Linked DNA regions of Homo sapiens: region 2 is reported to be linked to region 1. The links are microRNA targets in miRTarBase. Many come from high-throughput screens and were not tested one by one. Region 1 holds a microRNA gene; the other region holds the end of a gene's coding sequence.

The links. Region 1 holds the annotated microRNA hsa-miR-6859-5p (GAGAGGAACAUGGGCUCAGGACA, at 1,242-1,264, shown strand). A microRNA usually pairs through its seed, bases 2 to 8, with sites in the 3' UTR of a target mRNA and lowers its output. Matches are read on the target gene's strand: a 7mer-m8 pairs with bases 2 to 8, a 7mer-A1 pairs with bases 2 to 7 and ends in A, and an 8mer does both.
Region 2: miRTarBase lists TMEM167A as a target of hsa-miR-6859-5p. Seed matches in the 3' UTR shown: 7mer-m8 at 659-665 and 8mer at 1,798-1,805.

The regions. Positions count from the first base shown.
Region 1 is chr1:15,524-18,672 of GRCh38, reverse strand. It overlaps MIR6859-1 (microRNA 6859-1), which reads left to right and starts at 1,237; the gene lies at 1,237-1,304. It also overlaps the pseudogene WASH7P.
Region 2 is chr5:83,054,283-83,057,282 of GRCh38, reverse strand. It overlaps TMEM167A (transmembrane protein 167A), which reads left to right. Exons shown (of 4, transcript NM_174909.5): 4 at 129-3,000. The coding sequence ends at 199. Among named protein-coding and RNA genes, the nearest start is that of TMEM167A, 22 kb to the left of the region's middle.

The DNA.
Region 1 (3,149 bases):
ACCATCCTCTGTGTGCCCTGGAGGCTGTCCTTCAGATAGCATGTACAGGTGGCAGCATAGGGCCTGTCCCTACTGAGAGTGCAGGGAACTCAGCACCGTCAACTCCTCGACCCTGCAGGTCAGATTATCCTTGTAGAGGCCCCCTGGATGGCACCAAGATCGGCCCTGGCAAGTAGGTGACCCTGACTTCAGAGCCCTTGCCTGAGGGCCTGGCCTGGCAGCTCTGCTGTTAGAAGCAGGAGGTGTGCAGAGGGTGGGGAGCAGCCCAGCCTCTGTGATCTTCTCCATGGCAGGATCTCCCAGCAGGTAGAGCAGAGCCGGAGCCAGGTGCAGGCCATTGGAGAGAAGGTCTCCTTGGCCCAGGCCAAGATTGAGAAGATCAAGGGCAGCAAGAAGGCCATCAAGGTAGTCCCCATACCCCTGTGTCCTGAGGCTACTGGGCAGTCCCTCCATTTCCCCGTGCCTCTGAGGCTGCCCAGTCTCTGCCCTGCTGCCCACCTGTACCTTGAGCTTTCTTCTCGCCCAGGCTTCCAACTCCACCCTCTCCTGCCAAGCAATCCTAGCCCTCTGAGCCTCTTGGGGCCCCCTCAGACTTGTCCCTGTGTCCACAGGTGTTCTCCAGTGCCAAGTACCCTGCTCCAGGGCGCCTGCAGGAATATGGCTCCATCTTCACGGGCGCCCAGGACCCTGGCCTGCAGAGACGCCCCCGCCACAGGATCCAGAGCAAGCACCGCCCCCTGGACGAGCGGGCCCTGCAGGTCTGCTGGCCGCGCATATAGCCTGTCACACACCAGGAGGACTGGATACTGGGGAGGAGCCGGGGCCACCATAGGGTTCTGTCCCCCAGAGGAGGCTGACTGGGATGGGATGGCAGCTGATTAGGCCCAGCACCAAATATTCACCATCCCTTGGCCATCCTGGCCCTCTCAGGAGAAGCTGAAGGACTTTCCTGTGTGCGTGAGCACCAAGCCGGAGCCCGAGGACGATGCAGAAGAGGGACTTGGGGGTCTTCCCAGCAACATCAGCTCTGTCAGCTCCTTGCTGCTCTTCAACACCACCGAGAACCTGTATGGCCAGAGGGCAGGGCCGAGGGGTGTGGGCGGGAGGCCCGGCCTGGCTTAGTGGGGACCCAGGGCATCAGACACAGGTACAGCACATAGGCCAGGAGCCAGGGGGTGACGGGTGGCTCGGCTCGGGAGGCCTGGGACCCCACAGTGCACGCTGTGCCCCTGATGATGTGGGAGAGGAACATGGGCTCAGGACAGCGGGTGTCAGCTTGCCTGACCCCCATGTCGCCTCTGTAGGTAGAAGAAGTATGTCTTCCTGGACCCCCTGGCTGGTGCTGTAACAAAGACCCATGTGATGCTGGGGGCAGAGACAGAGGAGAAGCTGTTTGATGCCCCCTTGTCCATCAGCAAGAGAGAGCAGCTGGAACAGCAGGTGGGAGGGGTGGGACAGAGGTGGAGACAGGTGCAGTGGCCCAGGGCCTTGCCAGAGCTCCTCTCCAGTCAAGGCTGTTGGGCCCCTTATTCCACCCATGGGAGGTGCACACAAGGTCTTGTTGGCTGCCCCTGCAGGTCCCTGTCACCTCTCACATGTCCCTGCCTAATCTTGCAGGTCCCAGAGAACTACTTCTATGTGCCAGACCTGGGCCAGGTGCCTGAGATTGATGTTCCATCCTACCTGCCTGACCTGCCCGGCATTGCCAACGACCTCATGTACATTGCCGACCTGGGCCCCGGCATTGCCCCCTCTGCCCCTGGCACCATTCCAGAACTGCCCACCTTCCACACTGAGGTAGCCGAGCCTCTCAAGGTAGGTGAGCTGGGTTCTGGGATGGGAGCTGGGCCGGGGACCTCCCTGGTCACACACCTTCTTCCCTAGACACCCCACACTTTGTGTTTCAGACCTACAAGATGGGGTACTAACACCACCCCCACCGCCCCCACCACCACCCCCAGCTCCTGAGGTGCTGGCCAGTGCACCCCCACTCCCACCCTCAACCGCGGCCCCTGTAGGCCAAGGCGCCAGGCAGGACGACAGCAGCAGCAGCGCGTCTCCTTCAGGTGGGAGCAGCTCTTTGAGGCCACCTGATTTCTGGCGTGCTCAGTGCACTCGGGTGGATTTTCTGTGGGTTTGTTAAGTGGTCAGAAATTCTCAATTTTTTGAATAGTTTCCATTTCAAATATCTTGTTCTACTTGGTTCATAAAATAGTGGTTTTCAAACTGTAGAGCTCTGGACTTCTCACTTCTAGGGCAGAGGGAGCCTGAACAAGTGAGGCTCTGGGTTCCCCATTCCTAATTAAACCAATGGAAAGAAGGGGTCTAATAACAAACTACAGCAACACATTTTTCATTTCAGCTTCACTGCTGTGTCTCCCAGTGTAACCCTAGCATCCAGAAGTGGCACAAAACCCCTCTGCTGGCTCGTGTGTGCAACTGAGACTGTCAGAGCATGGCTAGCTCAGGGGTCCAGCTCTGCAGGGTGGGGGCTAGAGAGGAAGCAGGGAGTATCTGCACACAGGATGCCCGCGCTCAGGTGGTTGCAGAAGTCAGTGCCCAGGCCCCCACACACAGTCTCCAAAGGTCCGGCCTCCCCAGCGCAGGGCTCCTCGTTTGAGGGGAGGTGACTTCCCTCCCAGCAGGCTCTTGGACACAGTAAGCTTCCCCAGCCCTGCCTGAGCAGCCTTTCCTCCTTGCCCTGTTCCCCACCTCCCGGCTCCAGTCCAGGGAGCTCCCAGGGAAGTGGTTGACCCCTCCGGTGGCTGGCCACTCTGCTAGAGTCCATCCGCCAAGCTGGGGGCATCGGCAAGGCCAAGCTGCGCAGCATGAAGGAGCGAAAGCTGGAGAAGCAGCAGCAGAAGGAGCAGGAGCAAGGTGAGCGGGCCCTGGAGCTTGCAGTCGGAGGGCCTTGGGCAAGATCGCCTCCTCCCCTCCAGCCCTGAGTCCACCGGGTGCTTTCTGCCCACCCCCTGCTCTTGCCAGCTGGCCCCTGCTTCCCCTAGGGCACATGCTGGAAGCCCTGGGCCGCCACCAGAGGTCCTCAGCCCTCCTGCCTGGGCTATGGCTCCTTCCTGGTTTGGGAGCCATAGTGGAGCTTTCCTCTCTAAGCTCACCCAGCTCAAACTGACAGGAGAATCTTCTTCGAC
Region 2 (3,000 bases), not on the chromosome of region 1:
CTGCCCCACCCCCAATGTGCGGGCCTCCTAGGGAAGAATGTTATCTTGATTCTTATGGTAGTATAACCTTGTCATAGCCAGGTTAGCCACTCAGTTAATCAAGATGAACATCTCCTTTTTTTCAACAGGTGAACGGAAGAGTCCTTATGTTGCAGTATGCTGTATAGTAATGGCCTTCAGCATCCTCTTCATACAGTAGCTGGGGAAAATGCCAGAATGTAGTTGCCATCAGATTTGATTGTGAACAAGGACTGACTGCAGAAAATAATGGAAAGGATGTTTAACTCTTTTATCTCCGAACATTGAATGAGATAAATTTCCAGATGCTGTTCTCTATTTTAATGTTATTGGACCAATGTTCTGTATAAACAATTAAGATGTAACCATTTAATAGTCTGTAACAATCAACCTCAGTACTGTCACTACAATATTACATTCTGCAAATGTTATTCTGTTGTATCAGATACAAAATTTTAGTGAGGTATCTCTAAGGCACATAGTAGAAAACAAAATTGGTTAATTACTCAAGTTCCTTTCACTGTGATTTGGAAATGATTTAATCTTTATAGAATGAGAACCTTTTTTGGACTAGCTTTTTTATTAAAATGGCTCAATTTGTGTTGATAAGGATTGCATTAATATTTAATAGTGCTTGCTTTTCCTCTGGGCACACCATTTTGATCATTAACCAGAGTACCTCTACTCTTAGCAAACTCTAGTTTATGACAAGTATTTAAAATATTTAAAACAAGCTTATGCAGTTCTTAAGGACGAAGGTAAATGAGATGTAACTTAAAAATAGTATTGGGAAAATGTTGATAGTTAACATTAGTGGATTTAGACTAGCCAAATGACATAGTAGGCTCTGAAACATCTTGTCAAGTATATGTATTTTGTGCATGAATTTTTGCTGGAAAGCTGTCTTTCTCTGAAAAACACAACGTTCTTAGAATGAAAAGAACAATTATAAAATAATTATCCTATATGTGTTTTTCATTCTTTTTAGTGTCATGGCTTCAAAAATGAAACATTTATTTTAATTGCCGTAAAGGAACTGTATTTTTGTTTTGTTTTTTAACACAGCACTTTAAATCCAGTTTGTGTTTTGTCAACTTGAACTGGAATCTCTTTTGTTACTTTGGAGGTGATAAATAGTTTTCAAATCTGCTGATTTGTATACTGTGGCACAAGTATCTTTGAACTTTGATAGTGAAAGGAGACCTTCAACAATTTTTAGTCTAGGCGAGAGGAATATTAGGAATGTGACTTCTAAATTTTACAATAGAGCAGTTATTTTAAGGTCATGGTTAACATTTCTTAAGGTTCAACTAAAATTCAGTTAAAATTTCAGAGCTACGAGGAACTTAAATCTTAGCTAAAAATTACCTGTTGTAGATAGTATTAATTAGATTGTTTGCAGCTATTAATTCATCATAAAGATAAAATGAAGAAACTCTCCCTTTTTTTAAACAAAAAAAATTATTTCTAGATTAATAGGCTAGTAGTTATTTCTGCAGAAACAACGTATGGAACTGAAAGCCACCTATTTTTATTTTAGACTAATTTAAACCACTTGGAATGGATTCTAGGAAACATCTTAAGCTTGTGTGTTGCCTGTGGTGGTTTTTTGTTTGGGGGTGTTTTTTGGTTTTGGTTTGATTTTCTGTATTTTGTTATCTGGGGATTTTTTGTTTGTTTGTTTTGGTTTGGTTTTGGTTTTATATTTTTGGCATGTCTATGGCAGTTAAAAGTGGTATATTTTGCTTTAGATAGGGAATCAGGTTATAATCATTGTTCTTCCTCTAAACTGCCTCTTGGGCTTTACATCAGGTCAAGGATTTTTAGGGTTTCTCAAAAATAGGATTCTTGTCAGTGTATGCATGCTGAGTAAGTCACCTTTCTGGCTCTAATTTCTGGGTGGCCATCTGTTGTCCAGCTCTGCTGCCAACTGGACTTTCCGAAAGCCATGTCAACTAATTTTTTATATGCTAAGACAAATCGAATATGAAAAGAGGAAGAATATTCTAGATATTCTAAGACATTTCTTAATTTGGCATCTCAGAGGAGGTAGGTGGAAAGTAAAGGAAGAGATAATTTTGGGGGAAAATTTGTGGAAACATACAAAACGTTTTGCTTTGTATAGATGCTAAACAGAGTGGGAGGCAGCATATTTGTAACAACAACCATTCTGACCTTTTGAAACACAAGCTTTTGGAGAAGTCAGGGAGAGACACAGTATGAATAAAAGCAATTAACATTTTCTTTAATGTATATTTTTCAAAGAGGACCACGGAATCCTGTTCTCTAACCCAAGGGGCAGTGTAGGTGGTTTTAAGCCCACAGAATATTGAGATATTTCTCTTGTGGTTTTGGTGGGGTGGTGGGATGCAGAAGGTTATTAAAGATCAATTTAAGCATCAGATAGACTATCCCTTTTATTTTTTTAACTTTTAGGTTCAGGGGTACATGTGCAGGTTGTTATATAGGTAAACTCATGTCAAGTGGTTTTGTTGTACAGATTATTTTGTCACCCAGGTGCTAAGCCTAGTACCCAGTAGTTATTTTCCCTGCTCTTCTCCCTCCTCCCACCCTCCACCCTCAAGTAGGCCCCAGTGTCTGTTGTTCCTTTCTTTGTGTCCTTGAGTTCTCATCATTTAGCTCCTACTTCTAAATGAGAACATGTATTTGGTTTTCTGTTCTGTGTTAGTTTGCTAAGGATAATGGCCTCCAGCTCAGATGGAATATCTCTATCATATAGACCTGTTGTTACAGGGCAGGATCGGATGATGGACACTGAAGTCCTCAGCTTGCTAAGTTCAGTTGCTCTCCCTAGCCTCCTTTTGGCTTCAGAGTCTTTTGATTCCATCTATCCTGGTATTTTTTGTGTGCTGATGTTTAGTTCTGGATTGGCTTCAGCTGTGCTAATAGGAAGGGCGTTGTCTTTTCAAGCAATCTTAAAAGGTGGTCAATCAAAAGGCCAGAGTCTGAATCCCTTCTGTG